Homo sapiens: one gene and its partner. The protein of the gene in region 1 purifies or fractionates together with the protein of each later gene. This does not show direct contact. Each region holds a gene or a part of one and is shown in the gene's direction. Other genes may lie near its edges.

Region 1 (3,922 bases):
GCAGTGACCCGAGATCGTGCCACTGCACTCCAGCCTGGGTGACAGAGACACTGTCTCAAAAAAAAAAAAAAAAAAAATCCCTAAACATATTGTGTCCGGAATTGGTGGGTTCTTGGTCTCACTGACTTCAAGAATGAAGCTGCGGACCCTTGCGGTGAGTGTTACAGTTCTTAAAGGCGGCGTGTCTGGAGTTTGTTCCTTCCGATGTTCGGATACGTTCGGAGTTTCTTCCTTTTGGTGGGTTCGTGGTCTCGCTGGCTCAGGAGTGAAGCTGCAGACCTTCGCCGTGAGTGTTAGAGCTCTTAAGGCGGCGCGTCTGGAGTTGTTCGGTCCTTCTGGTGTGTTCGTGGTCTCGCTGGCTCCAGGAGTGAAGCTGTAGACCTTCACGATGAGTGTTACAGCTCATAAAAGCAGTGTGGACCCAAAGAGTGAGCAGCAGCAAGATTTATTGCAAAGAGTGAAAGAACAAAGCTTCCACAACGTGGAAGGGGAGCCCAGCGTATTGCCACTGCTGGCTCCCCAGCCTGCTTTTATTCTCTTATCTGGCCCCACCCACATCCTGCTGATTGGTCCATTTTACAGAGAGCTGAGTGGTCTGTTTTGAGAGGGTGCTGATTGGTGTGTTTACAATCCCTGAGCTAGACACAAAGGTTCTCCACATCCCCACTAGATTAGCTAGATACAGAGTGTGACACAAAGGTTCTCCAAGTCCCCACCAGAGTAGCTAGATACAGAGTGTCGATTGGTGCATTCACAAACCCTGAGCTAGACACAGGGTGCTGATTGGTGTGTTTACAAACCTTGAGCTAGATAGAGAGTGCCCATTGGTGTATTTACAATCCCCTAGCTAGACATAATGGTTCTCCAAGTCCCCACCAGAGTCAGGAGCCCAGCTGGCTTCACCCAGTGGATCCTGCACTAGGCCGCAGGTGGAGCTGCCTGCCAGTCCCGCCGTGTGCCCGCACTCCTCAGCCCTTGGGTGGTCAGTGGGACTGTGCGCTGTGGAGCAGGGAGCAGCGCTCGTGGGGGAGGCTGGGGCTGCACAGGAGCCCACAGAGGAGGGGGAGGCTCAAGCATGGAGGGCTGCAGGTCCCAAGCCCTGCCCCTTGGGGAGGCAGCTAAGGCCCTGCGAGAAATTGAGCACAGCAGCTGCTGGCCCAGGTGCTAAGCCCCTCACTGCCCGGGGCTTGCAGGCCAGCCGGCCGCTCTGAGTGCGGGTCCCCTGAGCCCACGCCCACCCGGAACTCGTGCTGGCCTGTAAGCGTAGTGCACAGCCCTGATTCCCGCCGGAGCCTCTCCCTCCACACCTCCCTGCAAGCTGAGGGAGCTGGCTCCGGCTTTGGGCAGCCCAGAAAGGGGCTCCCACATTGCAGTGGGGGGCTGAAGGGCTCCTCAAGCGCGGCCAGAGTGGCCGCCAAGGCCGAGGAGGCGCCGAGAGTGAGCGAGGGCTGCGAGAGCTGCCAGCATGTTGTCACCTCTCAATATGTTATCATATTTGGTACATATTTATACTAAAAAAGTATTGTTTATAAGAAATTCAAATTTTACTGGTGTCTTGTATTACATCTGGCAATCCTGTCTTCACACTGTTTCAATATTGGGAATATTGCATATAGTTAGGATTTTGTGTGTGATACGGCAAGAGTTATAAACTCATGGGTGTTCCCAGCCTTAACTCTTTGCCTGCCATCTAAAGAAGATTTTGAATTTGCCATTTCAGTTATTCCCTCCCCCTACAGTCTGAAGAGGGTTCTAGGTTGCTAGGTTTCCATGTTTTGTGGGCATTGTGATGCAGAGTCAAAAGAACTGTGAAACAGGAGTAAGTGGAGAGGTAGAGGGCAGAAGAAAAGGGGTCAAGAAGGCAGGACCCCGTGAAGCACACCTTTCCTAAGGATTTTGACGAATGAGAATGAAGATAAACTGTGAGTTGAAAGTGAAAGAGAAAGCATAAGGGATCTTAGTAAGTGCTTCTTAGCTTGTGTATCCATTTTAGAATATACGTAAGAAATTATTTTAAAGTTAGCTTTGGTTTCTTGATTTATCATTTGTTGATGTAGATCTTATTCTGAGAGTTGTCGCTCTGGGTCAGGGATTTAATATGTTCACATATGTTTGATATGAACATATGCAGAAAAGTTCCTGGTTTCATTTGTCACAACATTTTGAGTGATGCAATCATTTTAAAGTAAAACTAACAAATTTGAAAGAAACAGAAGATAAGGTCCCTCAATTGAAGAAATTAGGATATGGTGGGGATTTCTGGCCAGTCATGAGTGCATGGGAATCAGAAGGCATATGTTAGTTGAAGCTCTTTCATCTGAGGTGAAGTGAACTTGTATATTGGAGGGGTTTGTCAGCAGGGAAAGATGGGACATTTACATAAAGAAGTCTGATTGAGCTGATGAGTCATTAATGTAATTTAGTGTAAAATATTTAAAGTTTTGTTAGAAGTAATGCATGTCTTTCTCCAGAGCATGTGGGCATTGGAGGATACAGTATAAATAGAATACAAATAAACTACTTTCAATATAAAGGATAATCAAAACTGATTTAGAAAGATTCAAAACAGTCAGGTTCTTTTAAAACTCCATATGTATCTTTTGATTCTCAACAGGTCATTATGTAAAAATCTTGGTCAGAAGAGAATATTTGAAAACACAACCCTGGTATTTAGAATAAAGTGTAATATTGTGCTTCTTCAGGGCCCTGATTATCAACTCAAATGTCATTTATTTTAAGGATTTTAAACATTATAATTTTAAAAGCTATCAGGCATATACATCTACATTTATCTTTGTGGAAAAAATGATTTTGGTTTTCTGTATAACAAACAGTGAAATGTTGTGTGTGTGTGTGTGTATACATACACTGAAGCATTTTGGTTTATTTTTAATATATATTAAAATTTATATTTAATGTATATATATTTTTAGTGTTTATATTTAATACATATATTTATAATGCTCTATGTAAGTGAAGTATAGAACACTAAATACTTTAAAAATACCAGAAAACAGAAGAAAACAGCAGACTCGGTGGTAAACACAGTCATTTGGCTGAGTTATTTAAAAAAAAAGATTAAATAAGAAAGACATATGATTGTTGACTATTTCCAAACATATGTCCAAACATTAAATAATAAATATTGAGAGGTTTAACAGAATACATATAGCCTTCTTGTGCAATTCCAGGGAACGTTTAATTTTTAATGAGTAATAATAAACTTAAGTACATAGTTTTGTGATGTAATTACATTTCAGAGGGCAATACGCCTTTAGATATCACATATTATGTTTATTGAAAAACCAGTCTTAACATAGTTGAGTGACATAAATATATGTGATAAATATACTAGTATATTCACAATGAACACTGGATATTTCTTTTGTGTGTGTGTGTGTGTGTGTGTGTGTATTTACATATGTATTTTTTTCTTTTTTTTTTGTCTCACATACTTATCTTTATTTTTTGTAGTGAGAACACTTAAAATCTACCCTTTTAGCAATTTTCTTTTTTTTTAAATTTTATTATTATTATACTTTAAGTTTTAGGGTACATGTGCACAACATAAAGTTTTGTTACATATGTATGCATGTGCCATGTTGGTGTGCTGCACCCATTAACTCGTCATTTAGCATTAGGTATATCTCCTAATGCTATCCCTCCCCCCTCCCCCCACCCCACAACAGTCCCCGGTGTGTGATGTTCCCCTTCCTAACACTGGATATTTCTTATATACAAACCTATTTCAGAATGTAGAAGGGAACAATGAATCTCATAGTTATCCTGAATGTGCAAGTGGAAGACCCTACCAAACAGCAGAGCAGCATAGATGCTTTTCTTGGGGGAAGAAGGTGCAGGAGCTATTTTTTCCTTTCTTTTATGAAAATATCTTTATTTGTTTTCAGGGTGCATCTGACAA
Region 2 (3,822 bases), on another chromosome or scaffold:
GACTAAGAGTTTTGCAGGAATACCATAAACTGGTTCCTTCAGGGGCTGAGTTCTCAGATTTTTGATGACTTTAAATGAGAAGATAATAGGAGGAGACAAAATAAGTACCAAGCTCTGTGGCCATCCTTGTGGATTTTACAACCGTGGCTATGATCAGCATGAAAAAACCCTTATAGCAATAGGGGAAACCTAAATAAAAGGAAAGCTTTACCATGGATTAGAGATTCAGTATGTTGGGGGTGGCAGTTCTCCCACATTAATCCACAGAACCATTGAGATGCCATCAAAATCCTGGTAGATTTTTTGTGAGACTGGATGTGCTCATTTTAAATTTGGCGTGGGCCCTATATTGTGAGAATGGGCAAAATACTCTAGAAAAACATTGCCTTCTAGATATCAAAGGACTATCTAGAAGATATGAGTAGAAACAAACCCATGATTCTATGAACATTGATCAATGAGAGGAAGTCTTACAGAGCAATGGGGAAATGTTAGGAAATGTTGCTGGGACAAGAGGTATCCATGGGGAGAAATGAATTAGAAATCGGACCCTACCCACACCACACAAAAGCAAATTCAGAGTAAACACCTAGATGCAGGGGAGGGAGGATTGCTTGAGCCTAGGAGTTTGAGACCAGCCTGGGCAACGTAGCAGACCCTGTCTCAAAAAAAAAAAAAAAAAACAACCCTAAAACCTAGATGTGGAAAGGAAAATTAAAGATTTTAGCAGAAAATACACAATATCTTGTGTAAGGAAGGAGTTCTTTAAAAATAGGTCATCTGCTGGGTGTGGTGGCTCACTCTTGTAATCCCAGCACTTTGGGACGCCAAGGCAGGGATGACTGCCTGAGGCCAGAAGTTCAAGACCAGCCTGGTCAATATAGCGAGACTCAATCTCTACAAAAAGTTTTTGGCTGGGTGCAGTGGCTCACGCCTGTAATCCCAGCACGTTGGGAGGCCAAGGTGGGTGGATCACGTGAGGTCAGGAGTTCAAGACCAGCCTGGCTAACATGGTGAAACCCTGTCTCTACTAAAAATGTAAAAATTAGCTGGGCGTGGTGGTGCGTGTTTGTAATCCCATCTACTTGGAAGGTTTAGGCAGAGAATCAGAGAACACAGGAGGCAGAGGTTGCAGTGAGCCGAGATCACGCCACTGCACTCCAGCCTGGGCAACAGAGCAAGACTCTGTCTCAAAAAATAATAATGAAAAGAACTTTTCAGCTGGACACGGTGGCTCATACCTGTAATCCCAGCACTTTGGGAGGCCAAGGTGGGCAGATAACCTGAGGCCAAGAGTTTGAGACCAGCCTGACCGACATGGCAAAACCCCGTCTCTACTAAAAATACCAAAATTAGCCAGGCGTGGTGGCACATGCCTGTAATCCCAGCTACTTGGGAGGCTGAGGCAAGAGAATCACTTAAACCCGGGAGGCAGAGGTTGCCATCAGCCAGGATTATGCCATTGCACTCCAGCCTGGGCAACAAGAGCGAAACTCCGTCTCTGTTTTGAAGTACGTAACAATAACCTTTTCTCTTCATGTGCTTTTTAGCTCAGGTTCAGATTGAAGGAGATTTTTTGCCATGTTCCTTCTCTATACTTGAGGAACAGCCCATGGACATGCTTCTGGGACTGGACATGCTTAAACGGCACCAGGTAATTAAGAGCTTCACTTATTTTTTTTGCATCTGCTTTTTGTAATATGGTCATTATCACATTATTTTTATTGGTTACATATACTGGAAAACTAAGAAATAACGACTTTTCAAACCTGGAAATGTCCTTAAATTATGTTGCTATACAGAGGTTGAAATGATGTGTCGATATAGATAGAATCTGTTTTTGTGAAATCTCTCTGTGAATCTGTTAAATCTTGCCAAATGTTTTGAGATTGTAAAGGACAGTTTGGTTCCCTTGTATAATTTTCAGATTCTGGTTAGATCCTGATTAGTAGTTTTTTGATGACCTGACTAAAAAGTGTGAGTCAAGTAAGTCTTTAGCATTCTCTGATGCTGATCAAACAGTACTTGGGAAGAAGACCTTCAAGGTTAAGGAAGGTATATGTTGGGAGTGAAAGTGTTTATTTAGTACAGGGTGCATAATTAATATATTAATTTGTGTTGATATTTATCTTTCTACTCTAAAGCACAATAATTTGAGATATACTGCCGTCGTTGAAGAAGCAGTTAGTCCACTGGGTATTTAGATGAGATTAGGCATGCTCAGGGTGGTATGGCTGTAGACCTCACTGGGTACTTCACATTTTTCACAGTAGGGTTTTATATCCAGTCAACCTGCCAGGTACAGTGGTACATGCCTGTAATTCCAGCATTTTGGGAGGCCAAGGAGGGAGGATTGCTTGAGGCCAGAATGAGTTTGAAACCAGTCTGGGTAACTTAGTGAGACCCTGTCTCTACAAAAAGTACAAAAATTAGCTAGGCGTGGTGGTACATTAGCTACTCGTGAGGCTGAGGCAAGAGGATCCCTTGAGACCAGGCTGCAGTGAGTCAAGATTGTGCCACTACACTTCAGCCTGGGTAACAGAGCAAAACCACATCTCAAAAAACAAAATTGAGTTAAAAACAATTGAAAATATAGCTAATCAATATTTTTATGTCACTATTTTAAAATATTTCTGTAAAAGTAGATGCATCATATTGATAATAAGACACAGCATTCTATTTATTTATTTATTTATTTATTTTGAGATAGCGTCTCGCTCAGTTGCCCAGGCTGGAGTGCAGTGGTGCAATCTTGGCTAACTGCAAGCTTCGCCTCCTGGGTTCACGCCATTCTCCTGCCTCAGCCTCCCGAGTAGCTGGGACTACAGGCACCCATCACCACGCCCGGCTAATTTTTGTATTTGTAGTAGAGACGGGGTTTCACCTTGTTAGCCAGGATGGTCTCGATCTCCTGACCTCGTGATCCGCCCGCCTCAGCCTCCCAAAGTGCCGGGATTACAGGCGTGAGCCACCACGCCCGGCTCACAGCATTCTAAATAGAACGAATGAATGAATGAGTGTATGTATCAATAAAACCTTGTCACTGCCTTTCCTTATTTTTTTAGTCATGGTATAGACCAGCAGTCTCCAACTTTATAGATGTAAATCATATATGTGCACAACTGTCTATTAAGTAGTTATAAAATACACAAAAAAGGAAGTTAGCATTAGCATGGAGTAAAGAATACTGTGGAGATTGCCTTGCGTGGCACAATCTTGGCTCACTGCAACCTCTGCCTCGCAGGTTCAAGTGATTCTCCTGCCTCAGCCTCCCAAGTAGCTGCGATTATGGGCATGTGCCACCACGCCTGGTTAATTTTTGTATTTTTAGTAGAGGTGGGGTTTCACCGTGTTGGCCAGGCTGGTCTGGAACTCCTGACCTCAGGTGATCTGCCCTCCTCAGCCTCCCAAAGTGCTGGGATTACAGGCATGAGTCACCGTGCCTGGCCATTTGTGATTGGAGTTTTAAATTAAGGAGCATAATTTTTCTGCATGGTGTTTTATCTGCTATTATTCTTTGGTTTCTTTCTTCCAAGTGTTCCATCGACCTGAAGAAAAATGTACTCGTGATCGGCACCACAGGCTCCCAGACCACCTTTCTTCCTGAGGGAGAGCTACCAGAGTGTGCCCGGTTGGCATATGGGGCTGGAAGAGAGGATGTACGGCCAGAGGAGATTGCAGACCAAGAATTAGCAGAAGCCCTTCAAAAATCAGCAGAGGATGCAGGTATTTGGGATGGCCAAACTCTTCAATACTTGTTATTGATGGGTAAGCCCGGGAAGTGTGGGCTTCAGAAGGGGTAGGAACCTTTCCAGTTTTTAA

What was found.
Region 2: the proteins of CPXCR1 (region 1) and DDI2 purify together in Homo sapiens (affinity purification with mass spectrometry; one large-scale study listed by BioGRID and IntAct). This does not show direct contact.

Annotation. Positions count from the first base shown.
Region 1 is NC_000023.11:88,745,410-88,749,331, forward strand, and holds the start of CPXCR1 (CPX chromosomal region candidate gene 1 protein), read left to right. Parts: upstream 1-1,815; 5' UTR 1,816-1,960; intron 1,961-3,908; 5' UTR 3,909-3,922.
Region 2 is NC_000001.11:15,648,170-15,651,991, forward strand, and holds part of DDI2 (protein DDI1 homolog 2), read left to right. Parts: intron 1-1,550; coding exon 1,551-1,654; intron 1,655-3,536; coding exon 3,537-3,726; intron 3,727-3,822. UniProt on the Homo sapiens protein: Aspartic protease that mediates the cleavage of NFE2L1/NRF1 at 'Leu-104', thereby promoting release of NFE2L1/NRF1 from the endoplasmic reticulum membrane.